Linked DNA regions of Homo sapiens. The protein of the gene in region 3 purifies or fractionates together with the protein of the main gene of each other region. This does not show direct contact. Each region holds a gene or a part of one and is shown on either strand. Other genes may lie near its edges.

What was found.
Region 1: the proteins of SMAD6 (region 3) and ACVR2B purify together in Homo sapiens (affinity purification with western blotting, with the first as the bait; one study listed by BioGRID). This does not show direct contact.
Region 2: the proteins of SMAD6 (region 3) and ACVR1B purify together in Homo sapiens (affinity purification with western blotting, with the first as the bait; one study listed by BioGRID). This does not show direct contact.
Region 4: the proteins of SMAD6 (region 3) and PELI1 purify together in Homo sapiens (affinity purification with western blotting; one study listed by BioGRID). This does not show direct contact.
Region 5: the proteins of SMAD6 (region 3) and BMPR2 purify together in Homo sapiens (affinity purification with western blotting, with the first as the bait; one study listed by BioGRID). This does not show direct contact.

What each region holds. Positions count from the first base shown.
Region 1 is NC_000003.12:38,456,430-38,460,607, reverse strand, and holds part of ACVR2B (activin receptor type-2B precursor), read right to left. Parts: intron 1,178-4,178; exon of another isoform or gene 1,034-1,177; coding exon of another isoform or gene 919-1,033; intron 1-918. UniProt on the Homo sapiens protein: Transmembrane serine/threonine kinase activin type-2 receptor forming an activin receptor complex with activin type-1 serine/threonine kinase receptors (ACVR1, ACVR1B or ACVR1c).
Region 2 is NC_000012.12:51,957,906-51,962,083, reverse strand, and holds part of ACVR1B (activin receptor type-1B isoform a precursor), read right to left. Parts: intron 2,825-4,178; exon of another isoform or gene 2,594-2,824; intron 2,029-2,593; exon of another isoform or gene 1,897-2,028; intron 1-1,896. UniProt on the Homo sapiens protein: Transmembrane serine/threonine kinase activin type-1 receptor forming an activin receptor complex with activin receptor type-2 (ACVR2A or ACVR2B).
Region 3 is NC_000015.10:66,700,974-66,705,035, reverse strand, and holds the start of SMAD6 (mothers against decapentaplegic homolog 6), read right to left. Parts: upstream 2,801-4,062; 5' UTR 1,778-2,800; coding exon 961-1,777; intron 945-960; exon of another isoform or gene 1-944. UniProt on the Homo sapiens protein: Transforming growth factor-beta superfamily receptors signaling occurs through the Smad family of intracellular mediators. SMAD6 is an inhibitory Smad (i-Smad) that negatively regulates signaling downstream of type I transforming growth factor-beta.
Region 4 is NC_000002.12:64,137,660-64,141,837, reverse strand, and holds part of PELI1 (E3 ubiquitin-protein ligase pellino homolog 1), read left to right. Parts: intron 1-1,051; exon of another isoform or gene 1,052-4,178. UniProt on the Homo sapiens protein: E3 ubiquitin ligase catalyzing the covalent attachment of ubiquitin moieties onto substrate proteins. Involved in the TLR and IL-1 signaling pathways via interaction with the complex containing IRAK kinases and TRAF6.
Region 5 is NC_000002.12:202,560,944-202,565,082, reverse strand, and holds part of BMPR2 (bone morphogenetic protein receptor type-2 precursor), read right to left. Parts: 3' UTR 1-4,139. UniProt on the Homo sapiens protein: On ligand binding, forms a receptor complex consisting of two type II and two type I transmembrane serine/threonine kinases.

The DNA.
Region 1 (4,178 bases), on a different chromosome or scaffold from region 3:
AGTCCCAGAAAGAATCTGAAAAAGGCACATGCATGTGTACAGCAAGCCTAGAATAACCAGGGGAAAGCATGGGGCTGTCCGAAGGCGGGAAGCCATTATTGGTCCTGGGCCGGGAAGAGACATGGCTGACCCTTGAACAATCCCAGCCTGCTTTATCCATTGATTTCCAGTACCTACCACTGCCTTAGTCAGAGACATCACTGAGCAATGTAATAGAGTCAGAAGAAGGCAGCAGCATTTCCACCACCAGAAAACCTGGGCATTCAGTAGCAGTACCCCCAGGACCACAAGGAATAGGCACCTCTAGGGCTGGGATGGACCCGTAAGTCTGGTAGAGAATGAGAGACCAAAAAAGAAAGCCCAGAACAAGGGGGTGGGTGTCTGTTTTGGAACACAGAATTAGTGATAGAACCGGAGGGAAGGAAGAGAAAGAATTCTGAGAAGGAAATAAAGTCCCCTTTGTAAAGACCCCAAAAACAGATGGAACTAGGAAGTCTGAACCTCAGCAAGCACTTCACATACCAGTGATGTGGAGCACTTGGAAACTGGGTCTTTGAAAAATGCTTCCTCCACCCTAAGAGTCCAGTTTGTAATCACTTCCCAGTGCAGCAAACTGTGTCTCACTGAGTTCAAGATGAGACAGACAGAGTCCCACAGAAGCGTTCCCTAGCCAAGCTTGAAGCAGGCCAGGGGAGGAGTAGAAAATAAACATGGGGGCAGCCACAGGGGGCTGCCAGCCTGCCAAGCCCAATAGACAAGCCTCCACAGATACCAACCGCTCCACCAGGGCCTCCAGTGTCGGCTGCCTGTCTAAGGCAGCGCTGCCCACACCTCCCCAGGTCCACAGCAGGAAGCCTGGCCCTGCCCTCAGATTCCCATCTGGCCACCACACCCTGAGGGAGAGACTTGCACCCATACCTTTGGGGAGAGGCTGCCCACCTGCCCTGGTGTCCCCGGCCTGGGGGCTCCAGGCCCACAGCCTCTGCGGCTCCCCGGAGCGCCACATGGCAGGTCCACTCAGGGGAAGGGGCATGCCCACGGCCTGCTACAACCCCAGTGCTCCGCTTGGCAGACAGGGCTAGCCTTAGCTCCTGAGGCCCCCAGGTGAGCAGAGAGGGGCTGCTGGGCAGGCAGAGAGTCCCCAGCAACAGGCACTTCCTGGCATTTCTGCGTGTACGGGAGGAAGAGGCTGAGTGCCAGCCTTAAGGCAACGGTCAGAGGCGAGTGGGCGGGTGCGGGCAGGCAGGCTGCCCAGCCACCCACAGCCTCCGCCTCCCTGAAACCTGAACCACTTCTGGGAAAACTCAAGGACGCCAGGATTCTCCTCGGTGGTAAGCTGTACACCAGAACCACTAATTTTGAACCAAACTCTCACGTGCTGAGCAGATTTCACTAAGCAGGAATCTCCTAGGCTTTGAGGAGAACCTCACCTCCAACCCTGCATCCAGAGTGGGGGGATGGATATGCACTCAAAAGCCGTTACCCCTACTTCTTACAACTGTAGACCTCTTTGAAAGCGTGAGAACATTCTAGATCAGTGGTTCCCAATCTGAGATGATTTTGCTCTCACCTCTGCCAGGGACATTTAGCAAGATCTGGAAACATTTTTGGTTGACATGATTAAAGAGGATCTACTGGAATTTGTGGGTAGAGGCGGGGATACTGCTAAATATCCTACAATGCACAGAACAGCTCAACCCACCACTACCCATACACAACAGAGTATCATCAGGCCCAAAATGTAATAGTGTCAAGGTTGAGAAACCCTGTTCTACAGTGAGGCCCATGCAACCAGGACCCTGCCTCAGGACTATCTAGAGTCTATCTACAGTCACTAGCAAAAATATTATCCAGACCCAGTCCTCAACCCTCCAGATCCCAATCCATGGTGACAGGTCAGTATCCGTGAGTGGATCTAAACTCCTGAACCGATACTCCTTGGTTCTCATTTGCACTACCCTGAGCTCCCAAGCAGAGGGGCTGAATGCATAGGCTGGCACTCAAGAGGACAGCTTTCTGGAAAGAGAGACCAGGGCTAGAATCTGAACATCCGGCAGGATCACAAAAGGCAAAGTAAGTGAGGTACCAAGGTGGAAAAAGCACCCCTCCCCCGCAGAACAAGCTGCCCCTTAAGACTACTACAGTGGATATGTGCAGGGCAGCCAGGACTTCAAGGAGTCTAATCAGGGGGCAGTAGGTTCCCAGTATCTGTACAAAACAGAGTGGGTGCATACAATGTACACACACATGCACACATATACCGATTTACATTTTCCTGGAGGAAGGGTCCACAGCTTTCATCAGATTCTCAGAGGGGTCTATGACATGGAGGACCACTGTATAGAATGTGGGCTCTTCATTGGCTCCTTATAACAGGAGTTCCTTAGGTGAAGTGCCAGCAGAGGTCCAGGTGCTTCTGGAGATTCTTGATGCCCAGAAAGACCCACAGAGTAGTACACAGTAGAGGCCCACCCAAGTGATGGGAGGCCATAGGGTTTAGATCTTATGTTTTTACCCAGCTATAGGGCCTGGAAAGATGGGCAGGTTTCTCACATCATCTGCCTTGAAAGGGCCCCTAAGAGCTAGGGAGGATACCCATTCCTCCCAAAAGGCAGCCCACCCAGACAGGGCAGAGCCTCGAGTGCCCAGCAGATACAAGGACAGGTAGCAGAAAACACTCTTCTCTGGGAGGGGCACCCACGGCCCATGGCTCTGTAGCCCATGTCCTTGGCAGCTACCGCTACACTAGGCCTGAGGGATGAAAGTCACTTCACTTCATGAGCTCACTCCCTCCGCCCTCCCCCAAGGAAGTGGCCAAGAAACTTCTTTGGGTCAGCCTATCAGAGTAATCAGGGCCTGCACTTCCTGATGGGATAGACAGGAGGCAGGTCCCTCTCCAAGAGCTCTGGTCACTTCACTTAGAATACTGTTTACCCCACCCCCATAAGCCCTTTGATCTGAACCCCAAGTACAGAGTACAGAGACAGGTGTCAGGAGTTCTTGTAGGATACAGCATTGAGTGTCCAGGATGTCCACTGAAATGCAAGAGCCAAATGGCTTGTTTCCCAAGGACACTCGGCCAAGCACAGACCACAAAAGACTTGAAGAATTATTAAAGAACCAACTAACCACTGACTGATCTTGTGACAAGCACCATGTGACATTTATTACACCATAAATTCTACCTTCCCTTCTGAGATTCCATTGTCTAATATGGTAGCCACTAACCAAATGTTCTGCAGAGCACTGGAAATGTGGAAAGTTAGAGTTGAGGATGTTCTGTAAGGCACACACTGGATTTTGATGACAGTACAAAAATGGAATGCAAAATGTCTCGTTTTAATACTGATCTCAGGCTGAAATTACTTTGTATATATCAAATTCAGTGAAATATACTTTTTTTTTGAGACGGAGCCTCACTCTGTCACCAGGCTGCAGTGCAGTGACATGATCTCGGCTCACTGCAACCTCTACCTCCCGGGTTCATGCCATTCCCCTGCCTCAGCCTCTGGCGCAGCTGGGACTACAGGCGTGTGCCACCACACCCAGCTAATTTTTGTATTTTTAGTAGAGACGCATTTCACCACGTTGGCCAGGATGGTCTCGATCTCTTGACCTCGTGATCCTCCCACCTCAGCCTCCCAAAGTGCTGGGATTACTGGCATGAGCCACTGTGCCAGGCCAGTAAAATATACTATTGAAGTTCATTCCATCTCATGGAAAGAATGTGTCCCCCCAAAATTCATACAATGAAGTTCTGACCCCCAGTGTAATGGTATTTGGAGACGGGACCTTTGGGAGGTAGTGAGGGTTAGATTAAGTCATGAGGGTGGGGCCATCAGGTAATGAGAACAGGATTCACAGTCTTACAAAAAGAGGAAAACACCCCCTTGCCCCACCCCACCCCTGTCATTTGAGAATGCAGTAAGAAGGCAGATATCTGCAAGCCAGGAAGAGGGTCCTCACCAGAACCCAACCATGCCAGCACCCTGCACCCTGGGCTCAGACTTAGAGCTTCCAGAACTTTGACAATATAAATTTCTGCTGTTTAAGCCACCAGTCTACAGTATTTTGTTATGGCAGCCCCAGCTAAGACACAGCTGTTTCTTCTTCCTTTTATTAACACGACTACTAGAAAACGTTGTTTTATATCTATCCATAGTTCATACACTATTTCT
Region 2 (4,178 bases), on a different chromosome or scaffold from region 3:
CAACCTTAAGTCTCAGTTAGAGAATGAAAGCTTTGTTCTCACTCAGAAGAGACGTTTGATGTTTATGCTAAGGAGACCTGTCATTGCAACTTAATTTATGGCTGACTGTAAATACCTGAACATCTAGCAAGGGCCCACCTGCTGCCCAAGAGAATGTCAAGGTAAGACTGAAATGAGTGGGCCTCATTATGAGGGAGTGTGTCCAATGTTCCTGGGACCTATGTGTGCAGACTCAGCTGTCATATTTAGACAATCAGGAAATTGCATTTCTCCTTTGATATCAGTTTATGATGAACATGTAAAACCACTGTTTTCTTTGTTGAGTCTGAATAAACATACTTCTGGCTCAATAGAGCAGGGAAGGATATTTATCCCTGGTATTTTCTTCCTGACCTATTTATTATAGTATGGACGAATGGAGAGGAGACCGTGTATGTCACAGTTTTGAGTGAGAAGAGGGATAGGAATGATTGTTTCAGGCAACTGGGACAATGGAAAAGGAAAAAAGAAATCAGCCAAACTGAGAATAAAACTAATGAGGTTGAGAGATCAAGTTCATTTGGCTGGAATAAAATGGGTAGGTGGTAGGATAAACAGAGATGAAAGAGGTGAGGTAGAAAGAGAGATTATGATGTTCCAAGTAACTCACAAATGTTTGCGGCATTTTTTGAGTAGGTTTAAAATACTATATATACAAGATTATAATAACATTAGAGCAAAACAGAATTGGAATTATTTACCTAGGATTTTACTGAGAGGATGGAAAAGAAATGAATTAATTCAATTAAACAAACTTATTAAGTACTTGAAACATGCAAGGCTCTGTGCAGGCCGAAGCCATATAACAAATAAGCCAGCTCCCCGCACCAATTCTTTGGGCATGGAGAGTGGGAGAAGACAACTATAAACAGTGCAACTCCAACTACCAATACAGGCTGAGGGGAAAAGCAGAGAGGATGGAATCACTGACCGGGAGAACACAAGAGGACGAAGGTCCACACTGGAGGACGCTGGGTTTGGCTAGGAAGAGAAGTGGGGAGAAGCATTCCAGAGAAAAGGAAAAGGGAAAGCAAAGGGCTGTGAAAAAATATTAGCTACACTGGGTTCAGAGTAAATTGACAGTTCGAACAATGCCAAGGTTCCAGCCAAAGGCAAGAAGAGTCAGGGAGACTAAGACCAGATGAAACTGATTGCAATGCTAAGCTAAGGGGTCTAGAGTTGATCCTAGAAGCCACACAACCTCTAGGTCAGACAAACAGGGTGCATTTCCAAAGTTAGATCTAGCCGTAGGATGGAAAACAAATGGGAGATTGAAGGCAGAGAGCCTGGTTAGAAGGTCACTTTTACAGTACTCACAGTTTATAGCACAGTACAATATTTAGAGCACATGTTTTGGACTTGGATAGACTTTGGACCCACTGCTTAACTTCTCTATGCCCTAGTTTTCTCATCTGTAAAATGGGAATAAGAGCCCCTAGCCCCTCAAAGAATAACTACATAGAGTAAATGATACAACACAGGTGCTTAGCATAATACTTTAGTATATAGTAAACATTCAGCAAATCAGATGCTTTTATTACAATTGTCACCTGAACTCCTCATAGTTTGTGGTAGTTCCAACAAGCAGAAAAAAAGTCCATTTGTGTGTAAACTTTTTTTTTTGAGACAGGATCTCACTCTGTCACCCAGGGTGGAGTGCAGTGGTGCAATCATGGTTTGCTGTAGCCTCAATCTCCTGGTCTCAAGCTATCCTCCCACCTCAGCCTCCCAAGTAGCTGGGACCACAGGCACACGCCACCAAGCCCTTGTAATTTTTAAAAATGTTTTGTAGAGACGAGGTCTCACTATATTGCCCAGGCTAGTCTCAAACTCCTGGACTGAAGCGATCCCCTGTACCTCATTCTCCAAAGTGTTGGGATTACAGGCATGAGCCACTGTGGCCGGTCTCTGTGTGTAAACTTCCAAAGGGCAAGGACAGACTCTTTCCTCAGGATCCCTCTCAGCATTCAGCTTGGTGCTAGGCACATCCTGGATATCAGAAATGAACACTGACTGATTACAATTCAATCTTATCTTCTACAGGTATAAAAGGTAATATGCAAACATATACCAAAGCAATATACAAGGATGTGGGGCAAGGTGAGTCCTCTACCACAAAAAAAAAAAAAACCCAGAAAATACTTCAATTCCCAGATTCCTCAACTCAAACATCCCAAGCACCTAAAAAACTTATTTCCAAAGCATCCACAATCCCCTCTCCCCTCCACTCACAAATATCTAGAAAAAAGTTATAGTCAGATGAAAGCCACATGTGGTCAAAGGATTTATTTTTATATGTGAGTGATGGGATGGCTGGGCACCAGGTCTCAAGTACCCTCATGCCTATCTTGGGGTATTTCTCATTATTCCCCTCTCTTGCTTTACCTATTTTCACCATCACCATTTGACTCACCCCCACCCAATGCATACATTTTTTAAACCACCACCTAGTTACTATTTCACAGTTCCTACAGGTCAGAAGTCCAGGCACAGCACCGACAGTGCCAGTTAGGGCTGCCTTCTCATCTAGGATTGGGTCCTCCTCCAAGCTTACTGGTTGTTGACAAGATCCACTGCCTTGCAGATGAAGGACTGAGGTCCCCATGTTCCTCCTAGCTGTCAGCTGGGAACCACTCTCAGCTCCTAGAGTTTGCCTGCAGTTCCTTGCCATGTGGCTGTTGGGATCGGCAGTTCACAACATGGACGTCTGCTTGCTTCCAAGCCAGCTGGAACATCTGATTTCCTCTTGTGCAATCAGCTGAGAAATCTCTCTGCTTTGAAAGGGCTAGTTCAATCAAGACAGACCCACCATGATAACCTCCTTTAGATGGCTAAAGGTCAACTGATTGAGACCTTAATTCTATCTACAAAGACTAGCATTTGACTGAATACCTGAAGCAGGTGTGTGTACACCAAACATGGGGAATCTTGGGGAAGTGAGGAGCAGAAGGTGGACTGTAGTAGGCACAACTGCTTTACATTTTATACTTTTGTTTATTGTCCACCTCACCTGGCAGAAGGTAAGCTTTCTGAGAGAAGGCAATTTTGTCTCCTTTCGTTTACTACTGTATCCCTAACACCTGCAACAATGCCTAGTATATGACAGGTGCTCAATAAATATGTGTCAAGGGACCCTTTGGATCAGGGGTCCCCAACCCCTGGGGCCACAGACCGGTACTGGTCCACGGCCTGTTAGGAACCAGGCCACACAGCAGGAGGTAAGTGGCAGGCGGGTACCTGAGCTCTGCCTCCTGTCACATCAGCGGCGGCATTAGATTCTCATAGGAGTGGGAAACCTACGGTGAACCGCGCATGCGAGGCATCTAGCTTGCATGCACCTTATGAGAATCTAACATGCTTGATGTGCCTGATGATCTTTCTTTTCTTTTTTTTTTTTTTTGAGGAGTCTCACTCTGTTCCCCAGGCTGGAGTGCAGTGGCGTGATCTCGGCTGACTGCAACCTCCGCCTCCCGGATTCAAGCTATTCTCCTGCCTCAGCCTCCTGAGTAGCTGAGATTACAGGCATGCGCTGCCACTACCATGCCCGGCTAATTTTTTATTTTCAGTAGAGATGGGGTTTCACCATGTTGGCCAGGCTGGTCTTGAACTCCCAACCTCAGGTGATCCACCCACCTCGGCCTGATGTGCTTGATGATCTGAGGTGGAACAGTTTCATCCCAAAATCATATCTCCCCTACTTCCCCTGTGGGAAAATTATCTTCCACGAAACCAGTCCCTGATGTCAAAAAGATTGGGGACCACTGCCCTAGATCACCATGGTAGGTACTCAACATGCATATGTTTAGTTTGCAGTCTGGAAATGGGACTTCTAACTACATGTATTAAAATTCTGGTTTAGTGAAATTCTACAATTTTATTTCTACCACTTTTGTATACAGTTCTAACAAAATATGGTTAATGCAAATTTATTTGTAACCCCAATATCAACATTCATGGTACCTTCCTGCTCACTGACAGCCATGCACAGAATAGTGAAACATCTGAAACACCCACCACATGCATTCCCAACTGAGGTCAAACAAGGCAACACCCTGCCTTCTTGTTTCAGCTGGCATACTGTAAACAAGTTATCCTTTCTGCAGTATATTTAGTGTCATGCTTTTCATTGATGATTTTGC
Region 3 (4,062 bases):
CATACATCCCTCAGAGGCTAGCTACAGGCTAAAGTGTGTGTTCCCCACAAGACAGAGGTCAGAGCAAGGCAGCTGCAAGCTCCTGGCCTGCTGGAGCCTCCTGACCTGCTGGGGCCTCTGCCTGTCTGCACCTGAGCACCAGGGCCTGGCCAGGTAAGCAAGGCTGAGGGTGGGGCGTGTGCAGGAAATCCCAAGAGGAGAACAAAGAAGGGGGGCAGTTCTCAGAGGTAATCCAGTATCTGGCTTCTTCATCTACTCACGGATGCCTCCAAGACCCTAAACTCTATACAAAAGCTGAACACAAAACTTGAGAAGGACTATGGAAGACCCTGGCACTTGACACCCAAGGGATGTGGGGAATGATATTATGTGGGGAATAAAGAGGGTGCTCTTTACTCCAGAGAGGGGTTACCCTGCAAAGCTTTGTCGAAAGTATGCAAAGGCACAAATTGGACATTTGACGAACACTTTTGATTCTAGCTATGATTTGTGTACACCCAATTTCACAACTTACAGCTACTTGGACATAGAAAAGCACAGTGTGGGTAAGGGCACGTGCATACAAATGCTAGAAGCCTGGGCACAGACTGGGGTAGATTCCGGAATTGAGGTAGGAGGAAATAGCACCTACTTCTTTGGTCTCTCCTTGGCCTGCCCTCCCCTTTCACTGCCTATGAAGTTGGAGCCTACATCATGTCCCTGAAACTGCACAGAGAAAACTACGACATGTACCCTTTTAAGTTTACCGGAGCCTTGAGATAAAGTTGCCACTTGATGTGTGTGCTGGGACACCCACTCCCCTCGGCCGGTCTGAGGCGCCTCCCCTGGTGGCTCCCACGCTCCAAGGGCACCCGGGGGAGCACCCGCAGCTGCGCCGACCCGCAGTGTCACAGAGAGAAGGGCACGGAAGGGGATGGGGACGGGGACCCGGGGCCCCCCCGGCCGGCGCAGCGCGCTCACCGGGCCCGCAGAGCCGGCTGAAGTGGTAGGGGTTGCAGCACACGGTAGGGCCGTCGGCGGCGGCGGCGAAGCTGTGGCAGCCGCACAGGGGCTTCAGCTCCACGGCGTGCTGCAGGTCGGGCCAGCGAAAGAGGCGGCCGAGCAGCAGCTGCGGCGGCGCGGGCTGGCCGCCCAGGCGGAGGTCGGCGCGCGGCACCAGCACGCAGCCGCCCGGCACGCCGCCGCGGGACTCCACCGCCTCCAGCAGCGTGTCCAGCGAGCGCTCCTTGAGCCGCTTCAGCAGCGAGTACGTGACGGTTTTGAGTTCCTGCTCCAGCAGCAGCAGCCGCGAGCGCGCTTCGCGACTCCGCCCGCCGCCCGCCGGCTCCAGGGCCGCCCCGGCCAGGGGGTCGCTGGCGTCCCGGGGCGCGCCGGCGGCGTCCCGCTCCGAAAAGAGACAGCAGGTCACCGTCTCGCAGTCACTCTCGGGCAGCCAGCCCGGGCCTCCCGGCTCCGCCACGTCCAGCAGGGAGCTCCCAGCGCCGGCCCCTGGCTCCGACATGGGCCTCGGGGGGCCCCCTGCGCGCCGGCGCCTCCCCGCGCCCTGGGCGCCTCGCTGTCCCACTGCGTCCCGGGGCCGCCGCGGGGCTACCGGGCGGACTTCGGAGCGGCCGCAGCCTCCGCCCTCTCTTGCCCGCGGGGCCGGCTCAGCTCGGCTGCCCAAGCTCCCATCCTCGTCGCCGCCACCGCCGCCGCCGCTGCCGCCTTCCTCCCGGTCGGGGACCACACGACTTCGCCAAAGTCGCCGCACCAGCCCCGAGCGTTTGGACCTGAACATACGATATCCTTTGGCGCCAGGGGTGGGGGGGAGGCGGTCTCCGGTTACCGGGGGTCCGTTCCCTCAGCGAGGCGCCGGCTGCGCGGGTCGCAGCCCCACATGAAGCTCCGCCGCGGAGCGCCGTGCAGACCGCGCACAGCCTGTCGTCGAAGGGGCGCCGCAGGGCGACAACATGAGGGAGCTCGCCGAGGCGGGACGGCCGGGAACACGCGCACGCCGAGCCGCAGTCCGCGCGCGGCCAGCGGCTACATGGACCACAGCGGCGGGGCTGCTCAACAACTCCAGCCCCCGCGCTTTAGGGGGGCTGCAGGCGGCGCGCCGCCAGAAAGACCCCACATGGGCCGGCGAGCCTTCAAAAGTTGTGCGGCTGGTCCATGAGCACAAAGCGCTCGCGCGAACCCCTAAATGTGTCTGGAAAGCCCTGCCTTTACCTTGCCTTTTTTTTAAACCAAAGCGCTTAACTACATGGGCTTTTCCCGCAGGATCCGAAAGGCAGGCTTGTTGATACCCCCAGCTCCCTTCTTACTCCCTGCAAAAAGAAAAAAAAAAGGAAAGAAAGAAAAGGAAATCCCAAACAAAACCTAAATCCCTGGATTTGCATGCACGAAAGGCCAACGCCGTCTCAGGTCCCAGGCGCTAGATGCACTTGGAGCGAGTTTCTCCTGGACGCGGGTGTCAACACATGAGTGGAAGCTGTAAAAATCCCAAAGAGCTGCTGGGAATCCTTAATTAAAAATGCAGTCCACCGATGCAGAGGTCGCAGCCCGCCCCACGCTGCCCTCGGACGCTTCGTGCGCCGAGGCTGCCGAGGTCGCCCCCCCTCCCCCCTCCACAAAAGTGCCTCCCGGTGGCCCCGGGGTCCCAGCGAGGTCTGGCGAGGCAGCGCCCGGCGGCTCTTTCTCTCGGCTCAGCTCCCTCGATCGCTCCCCCGCTCGGCTCTCTCTCTCTTTTTTGTTCTCCTCAAACGCACACTGAGGGCCCCCGGAGGAGCGCCGCGGAGTCATTGGCTGCCTCCCATCATATGCCAGTCTAGACACTTTGGCGGCTCCGCGGCGCTGATTGTTGCGCAAACAAGGTTTCAAGTTTCTTAACTCTTAAAGGAGAACACGTCCCATTGCAGGGCCGGAGGCTCCAAGGGGCCGGCTCCCGGGGCGGGCCGAGCTCGGGCCCCCGCCCCACACCACCCCGGCACCCCCGCCCAGGGCCTGACAGCGCCCGCGGCCCGCTTTCTGCCTCGCGTTGCGCCCAGAGCACGGATGCGAGCGAGCACACACGCGCGCGCGGACACACACACACACACACACAGGGTTACACGAGCCACGAGCAGGCGCGCAAGGCTCGGCGGACCCACTGAGACTCGGACGCAAACGGGGCGCTTTGCCTCTCCCTGGCTTGTGCACAAACTTACAAACACACTTTGCACTTTAAAGTTGTTCCAAACCCCCATCCTAGGGTAGGCTAATAAAAATGGGTGTGCATGTGTGCCTTCCAGGGTTGAGCCTCTGAGGAGCAGGGGGCGGCGGATATGTTGGGGTAGCGGATCTTCCGTGACTGCACTAGGGGCTCTACGCTCCTTGCACAAAGTCGGGGGTCGCTCTGCCGGGCCAAACAGGGAGCTCAGGACGCTTTGCGTACGGTGGCTCCAGGCTCGCCCGGAGTGGGGAGATGGAGAGGGTGGGGTAGAGGCGGGGAGTGTCTACTCGCTGGCTCCTCTCGGTCGCCACGGCCCTCCCTTGGAGCGAGGCGGGCCGCCGGCCGGCCGGGCCCCCTCCAGGCCGGGTGCTTCCTCTCCCTTCTCAAGTTTACTCTCCGCACCTCGGAGAGGGCTGTAGGTGAGGGATCACGCTTTCCCTAGAGAGGTTTCCACGCGAAAATGGGGGTGGGTTGGGGGCGGGATCGGGGGCGCGGCGGCAGCAGCCTGACGCCCGGCGCGGGAAGGGTTAAGGCCGCTCCTGCCCCTGGAGCCGGCGCGGCGGGGTACCTCCTCGGGCGCGCTCGCTAGTCCGAGGGTGGCAAAAGTTCAAGCTTGTAAAGTCGGGATTGGTCCCGCGCGGAGGGGAAAAAAGGCCTGGGCCCCCCTCCCCCCCCGGGCGCGGCGCCGATTGGCCAGGCAGAGGGGCCGGCCCCGCCCTCTCCCCCCGCGCGCGGCGGCCCCACCCCCGGCGCGGCGCCCCGCCCCTTTCCGGGCAGGAGCCTGGCCCCGCGCTGAATGAAAGAAATTCCGCTACTCTCATTGGCCCGGGGCTGGGCGCCATTCCCCCGCGGTGACCGCGGGGCGCCGGCGG
Region 4 (4,178 bases), on a different chromosome or scaffold from region 3:
TCTGGCTTTGCAGGTTTCATAATTTCTTTGAGACCCCTTAAAGGAAATGACTGAAAAGTACGGGGTAGGAAGTTAGTCTAGTACTGCCAAATGCCACTGAGGCAAGTTTCAAAGGGGAAGCCAAAGGATGTTTCCATTTGATTTAAGTTCAGCCTCTTCTGGGTTGTCAGAATGTCACTTTTGTATTTTAAGAGTTCTATCATTTCAGAATATGATGTATTATGGTTTTCTAGTAGGTCAGGTGGTAAGGACTGTAGATAGTCATTATGCTTCGTGGACAACTAATGTTTTTAGGCAGAAGCTTCTATAGCTGATAAAGATTTTAAGCCAAAGACTTAGAATTGAAAACTAATATATACATACACATTTTACCATAATACATCAATGTAGACCTATCCTAGTATTTATTAGGTTAGAAAGGCTTTTTGGATTATTTTATTATACAGATATATTTAACTGTAAATATTAAAATTTCATAATGACTAATATATGATGGCACTGAGGTGGCTTTAGGAGCTCCTTTGGGGTGGGGGCGGGAAACATGTTATTCCAAAAGTTACATTTATGTCTTTGAGGACAGTAAAGCAGATTTAAAAGCCAGTGAGAAAAGGAAGAAAATCAGCAAAGTGAAGAAAACCTGATGAAGATGTTTTTAAATAATACAATGTAAAGATTGTTGGCAGCATTTATATATAAGGGACAAAATTCTAGTTGAAGTCTATAAACAGTGAATTCCACTTAGCACTTTCTGTTTATAGATTTCTAGCCATCTTTTCCAGATTCCCTCTGAATATATTACACAGGCAAAGTAAATAGAAGTCATTCTTTCAAGGGATTTGGGTTCTTGGAGATTTTTTTACACTTGTGGTAGTGGGGGAGGGGAAGTGCTTATTATATTTTCTTAGTTTTAAGTGTGACCTGTGCCATAGAATATTTCCCTAGACTAATGTGTGGGAACCTCAAGACAAGAATTATTGGTCATTGAAAGATCTGGATATGATTTCAAGTTCTGCCCCTAGGTTTTTTTTTGTTTGTTTGTTTTTTTTTTTTGCATGTTGTCTTGAGTAGATCACTTCTATTTTTCCTTCAAAGGCTGAAAATAACTGCCTAACATACTATGTTTAGTAGGTCCTAAATACTTTTTGTTGTTTAATGAATTTACAGGTAATAAAGAGAAAGCACAGTGTTTCTTGAATGGATGTCAGGGAATTTCTAATTTTTTTCTTTTTTGATAGAAAAAAGTAATCAAAACATAAACATCTGATTGGAGTCTTTCAGTTAGCTTACCTACCTTCAGAAATAAGCCTAGAGAAAGAGAGCTTCATCTGGTAGTTTAACAGAAATGAATTGTAAATGACTCTTAAGAAGAATTGACAATTTTTCGGAATGTTGTACTAGATGTTTTAGATTCTTTTTGCCACATAAACTCCACTTCAGAGAAATGGGGTTCTACATAGTACTCTTGTATCGCCCCTGTAATACCTTTACACCTCAAAATACCAGTTGCAGAAAAATAGAATGTGTTGCTGATGCCTATAAATGGGAAAATCCTGACATCTGTCTTCATCCTCCAGTTAATCTTCATGTAGTTTTTAAAAAAATTAATTCAACACACATGTAATTTACTTCCTTTTCAGAAAATTTGTTGCTAATTTTTATTTTATAATGAGCCTCTTGGGATGTTGCTAATTCTAAAAATATGTAATACCCGCGGTTTCCCACCATCTTCTGCAGTTTCTTTTTCTATTATTTTTTTGGCTACAGTTTTCTTTTTCCCCTAAGCTGTCTAAAATAAGCTAAGAAATGTTTAAATGTAGTTGACAAGAAACACAGTCAGTAATTTATCATGCTAAAATTTCAACATACAAGGTGCAATGAAATCTGTTTTAGGGATAGTACACTTTTGAAGGGGGCTAAAGCAGGGACAGCAAATAAATTTCGTTTGGGGTACCAAATCTGATTGTTTAGTGGTGGCTGCCTAGAGTGCTGTGTTTAGAAAACTGGGAGTCCTTGTTCAAACTTAGCAGGAAAGAGTACTGTGATTAGCAATTTCTGCTGTTGGTGAGCGGTGGACTTTTGGCATGGATGCCAAATACATTCAGTGTTTATTGATGCCGTTTACATGTCACAGGTCTAGATGCTGATACCTCATAGACTAAAATCTCTGCTTTCATGGTGTTTACATTCTAGTAATAAGACACAAACCATAAAATAAATAAAATACATTGCGTTTTAAGAAAAATGGCTGGGCGCAGTTGCTGACACCTGTAATCCTAGCACCTTGAGAGGCTGAGGTGGGAAGATCCCTCTTGTCCAGGAGTTCAAGACCAGCCTGGGCAACGTGGTGAGACCTTGTCTCTACAAAGAAGTTTCTTAAAAAATTAACTGGACGTGGTCCCAACTACTCGGGAAGCTGAGGTGGGAAGATCACTTAAGCCTGGGAGATTGAGGCTGCAGTGAACCATGATTGCACCACTGCACTCCAGCCTGGGCAACAGAGCGAGACCCTGCCTCAAAACAATAGAAGTTAAAAAATAAATAAAAGAAAAATGACCTGATTTATTCAAAAAATTAATAGCAAGAAATAGGGAGGGAGAACTATAAGATTAAAAGAGACTTAAGAGGCTTTTCCACCAAATGCAATGTATGAAGCTTAGTTCTATCCTGCTTTGAGCAAACTAACTGTAAAAAGACATTTATTCAAAATTGGGGAAATTTAGACTCTGGATATTTAATGAAAAGGATTTGTCCATTTTTTCAGGTGTGAGAATGTACTTTTTAAGTGTTCTTTTAGAGATGTATAATGAAGTGTTTACAACTTAAAATGTGATGTGTGGGTTTTTACTTCAAAATATTGAAAGGGAGAGGAACATAGATGAAACAAGATTGGCCATATATTGAAAATTGCTGAAGGTAGATGCTATATGGATACATGAGGTTTCTTACTTCCTCTTTATTTTTGTGTATGTTTGAAATTTCCCCTAATAAACAGTTTTACACACAAACAGGAAAATAAAGCAGGGAAGGGGAAGGGAGAATAAATGGGATATGTGTATGAGGTTCGGAGGAGGATGCAGTTTTTTGCTTTTTGTTTCTTGTTTTTTGTTTTTGAGATGGAGTTCTGCTCTCATCACCCAGGCTGGAGTGCAGTGGGGCGATCTCAGGTCACTGCAAATTCTGTTTCCTGGGTTCAAGTGGTTCTCCTACCTCAGCCTCCTGAGTAGCTGGGATTACAGGCACACGCCACCACGCCCAGTAGAGTTTTGTATTTTTAGTAGAGACAGGGTTTCACCATGTTGGCCGGACCGGTCTGAAACTCCTGACCTCAGGTGATCACCTACCTCCGCCTCCCAAAGTGCTGGGATTACAGGTGGGAGCCACCACACCTGGCCAAGATGCAGTTTTAAAGGGTAGTGAGAAAAGACTTCATTGAGAAGATGATAAATAGTTAAAGTGAGTAATGACCTGAAGGAGGTAGCACAGCAAGCCTTGCAGGTCTCCTTGGAGCAAGACATTATACACAGAGGGAATAGTAAGTGCAGTGGCCCTGAGATGGGAGCGTGCCTACAACTGCAAGAAACTACAAGAAGACAAGGGTGTGAGCCAGGCATAGTGGCTTGCACCTGTAGTGCCAGCTACTCAAGAAGCTGAGGTGGGAGGATCATTTGAGCCCAGGAGTTCCAGACCAGTCTGAGCAGCATAACCAGATCCTGTCTAAAAAAAACAAAACAAAACAAAAAAAACTAGCGTAACTAGATCAGGGTGAGCGTGAGTACATAAAATCAGCATCAGCATGGGAAAGGAAGGTTAGAGAAGACTAAATTGTGTAGGGCTGGTTATCCATCTTTAAAGGAAAAATATTTTATACACTTATCTAAAATAAGTCTTATACTTTAGAGTAGTCACCATGGAAGCTATACACTTAACAATACTAGCATTACTCAATATTTTTAGAAAAAAAAATTTTTTTTGTCGTCTAAGCCAGTTTAAGAGCCACACGTGAAAATAGCTCATTACTTTGTATTTGCTCCTTGTTTTTAAGGAAAAAAGGGGTGATTGGCCACGTGATATTTCATGTTATTTATCAGATATGACTCACAGAGGATCTTGACAGAAAGAAAATGGGAAGTAACTTGAGGCTATTTCTAAAAATCAGATCCAGTCTGAGAAGGCAGTTA
Region 5 (4,139 bases), on a different chromosome or scaffold from region 3:
ATAAACTATGAGGTGATTTTTTTTGTTTTTTTTTGAGATGGAGTCTCACTCTGTAGCCCAGGCTGGAGTGCATTGGCGCGATCTCGGCTCACTGCAACAACCTCCGCCTCCCGGGTGCAAACGATTCTCCTGTCTCTGCCTCCCGAGTAGCTGGGACTACAGGCGCGTGCCACCATGCCTGGCTAATTATTTGTATTTTTAGTAGAGATGAGGTTTCATCGTGTTAGCCAGGATGATCTCAGTCCCCTGACCTCGTGATCCACCGTCTCGGCCTCCCAAAGTGCTGGGATTACAGGCGTGAGCCACCGCGCCCAGCCTAACTATGAGGTGATTTAAGGAAAGTAATGGGAAGGTGCACTTAAATGCCCTGTGATTCCCTCTTTTCTTTATGTTAATCTGGAAACTTGTAGAAAAGCCTTCTCTTGATAACAAATTTTATGTAACTAGCTCAAACAGTGATTTGCCAGATTTACTTAATCAAGGAATATATTTAGGAGGGAATCATGCAAGATAGTTTTGGGTAAAGTTTGCACAGTTCATAATCTAAAAGTTAAAATGCAACCTTATATGCTGGAGAGTAAACTGCCAGTAACAGTACATTTAGAAACATTGCATTCTGAAAAAGTCTCCTGGGGTTTATGTGGGAGTGTTACAATTTCCAGAATGACTGGTCTAGATAATCAACATGTGTGTCCGGATTTTAACTTTAAGAAGTTAGATGGGAAGATAAAGCAATATATGAAGCAATCTGTGAATAGTTACATAATAACCTGCACATAACAGGTAGTAAGTTCAACATAACTTTATAAAATGTTGTATGGAAATATAATCTCAAATTCTAGGAGTTAATGATCTCCAATAAAATATTCATGTCCATAAATATGAAAAAAGGAAAAGCTCATTGAAATATTTTTCCATTTTAAATGACTTTCAGGAGGCACTTACAAAGACTAGAAATTTCAGTGTAACAGCTACAGCCTACCAATTCCACTTGGCTGTAGAAGTCAAATTTGAAAATAATTTAAATAAAAATACTTGCCAATGTTTTGTGATAATTCCCACTGAAGCCCACACTTACTTGAGTGTTCCTTTCTCTCTTTAAATATTTTCACATTCAGAACCAATGCACATTTTCTGGAACAAGTGGATACATGTAAAGAAGCTATACTAAACTTTTATAAAAAGGACATTATATCCTTGTATCCTTCCTATATCCTACTCAATTAGTTCTATAGATTAGTAAATTTTCTAAAGTTATTAAAAGCAGAAGTTTTGAAGATGGATTCAAAGGATTGATGAGACTGAAATTCTTTGTTAATTCCCCCAAATCTGCTATGGAATCAATTTAGGGAAAGGTCTCTGTTCCCAAAGCTATCTTAACTTTTTCCGTAAAATTTACTTTACCATTAGTTCTGCAATGTAAGAAATGTTAGGAGTGAAGTGAAATGATTTTAAGATTCATGATGGAAGATACAGGATTGAGTTTTGTCTAGAATTAGTAATTATTTCTCAAGCAACAATCAGCATAGATATGTCTACATATCTCATATTTGCCTAACTTCCCAAATCATTAAGGTATGTGGTTTGGCTCATATACAAATGAAAATTGTGCCAGAGTATAGTGACTGAATTTTTATGTTTTTTTTTTGAGGCAGTCTTGCTCTGTCGCCTAGGCTGCAGTGCAGTGGCGCGATCTCAGCTCACTGCAACCTCCACCTCTCGGGTTCAAGAGATTCTCCTGCCTTAGCCTCCTGAGTAGCTGGGACTACAGGCGCCCACCACCACGCTCAGTTAATTTTTAAAAAATATTTTTAATAGAGACGGGGTTTCACCATCTTGGCCAGGCTGGTGTTGAACGTCTGACCTCATGATCCACCCGGCTCGGCCTCCCAAAGTGCGGGGATTATAGGCATAAGCCACTGCACCTGGCCTGAACTTTTTAAATAAACGTTAGCCCATTACACATCCTGTCATATGGCATGTAGGCAGTGTGGTATGGATGAAAGAGATGTGGAGAGAGGCAGACATAGACTGAAATCCCAGCTTTGTCTGTTACTAGATGTGGACCTTGGGCATATTACTTAGCTTCTCTTAGCTTCAGTTTCCTCATCTGTAAAATGGGAATATTAATTACAATGCTCATATGGTTGCTCTGAGGTTTAAGAGAAATAGCATATGTATACTTCAGCATTCAGTATGTGCCTTCTTGTAACTTCCTACACTGGTAACAGTGGGTTTTTTTTTTTGCCAATTATGCATTTAGAAAGTTTTAAGAATTTACAATTAAATCATTTTTGTCTAAACGTAATTCAAATCAAGTTCTTTCAGTGACCTAATTCTGGTATACAGTTAGGATTTTGTTAAGGGAACTAATATTAGACTTTACCTATTATGATGCTTTTAAGGTTACATTACCATCCAGTGAAATAAATTTTAATATTTTTAGTTGAATGATCTTTTATTCAAAAGGACCCCACTTTTCTACATATAAAACTTTGTGATAGCAGTTAAATGTCAACTTTAAGAAGCATTTATTATCAGATGAGTATTAGCATACAATTAAGTCATTTAAAATAATTTTGCTTGCTTGTATATTACAGATTTTAAAAGTCTGATGTACAATTTAAAATTTATAAAAATGATATATACTTTCCACCTTTCCTACTTTTTCAGGAGTTTACTAAGAAAAACTGGTGAAAGGAAATTATTTGTTTTAAACATGCTTGAATGAAATAGTAAACTATTCAGTTATTTTAATCTGGCATATTAATTTTTAAAGCATTTTATCATAATTTTCCCAATATTAAAAAATGTTGGACAACCTACAATCAACTGGCCCAAATACAAATATAGCAGAACGTAAGATAACTCTTCTGGCAGGAAAAGATCAGTTAGACCTCAAATGGTCATTTATCCTCAATGCTTCAAATTGGAGAAGGAACATAATTTATTTTGATTCAAAGTTGTCCTACAAATATTTGAAAAGAATATCCTAAAATGCATGTGAAAGATATTTAAGGGCAAGAGAACTAAGTGAAAATGTACTAGGAAAGATAAAAATAATTTGTTAATAGAAGAATAATAACTGTGAAAAAAATTACGTGCCAGAAGACTGAAAATAGATTAAGGGGCTGAATAAAGAAAAGGGCCAATAAAACACAAAACGTGGAAATCCTGGGCACTAACAAGATATTCTTAATTCTATGAATCCAGAACTGTGTTCAGCAATCCAGCTGAATAAATGGTAGGTATAGTAACATCTAACTTGTAAGATCACAGCACATGGCAAATGAGAAGGCTTATATACAAGTAAATCACAAATATTTTGGACAGAAAATTGGGAAATTTAGGCTGTCTTTAGCTAAGTGATAAGATAGAGGAATATGAGTGAGAAAATATTGTTCAGGAGATAAAAACATAAATCAGAAATTTGGTGATTTGTGTTTTCCTCTTAACCTTTTAATCCCTGGAACTATCTTAGAACTAAACTATATAACATTTACTAAGTACTCTGATAATCGAAAAAAAAGTAAAAAAAAGTGAAATCATCAGTTTGCAAATTAATAGAAAATAATTTCTGTTTAGAAAAAAGTCCATTATTTGACAGAAAGTGCTTTATTTAAAAAAAACATGCAGAGGTTGTTTTAGAGGAGATTATAAGTAATGAAAGAAGCAAAGGGCTTTTAAAAATAATATGATTTCAAGTCATTTTATTACTAAAAGGTATACTCTAATGTAAATAATAAATGTTGCTCACATATCAAAGATAATGTGAAAAACTGGCAAAAGGAAAAATTATGAAAATAGGATTAAGGAAGATAACACAATTTTGAAAAGAGAGAAGTTTAGTCTCAGTTTGCTCAAAAAAGGTAGGTTTGATAGCAGCCCTTCCTTCATAGGGACTTGGCATGCCACTTGAATGATTTTTCCTCACAGTGTTTTAGGTCATGGGAAGAGGAATCATTTTCAGATAAAGTCACCAGTCTTTGCTTGGGAACAGGGTAAAAGATACTATAGGTTCAGAACTATAAATTACTTCTGAAGTTATAATAAACAGTAAGGGTAATTTTATGAGTCAAAGATGGCCTATTCAGAGAATGAAGGCTATAACACTATTTTGTCTTAACCATTTATTTACC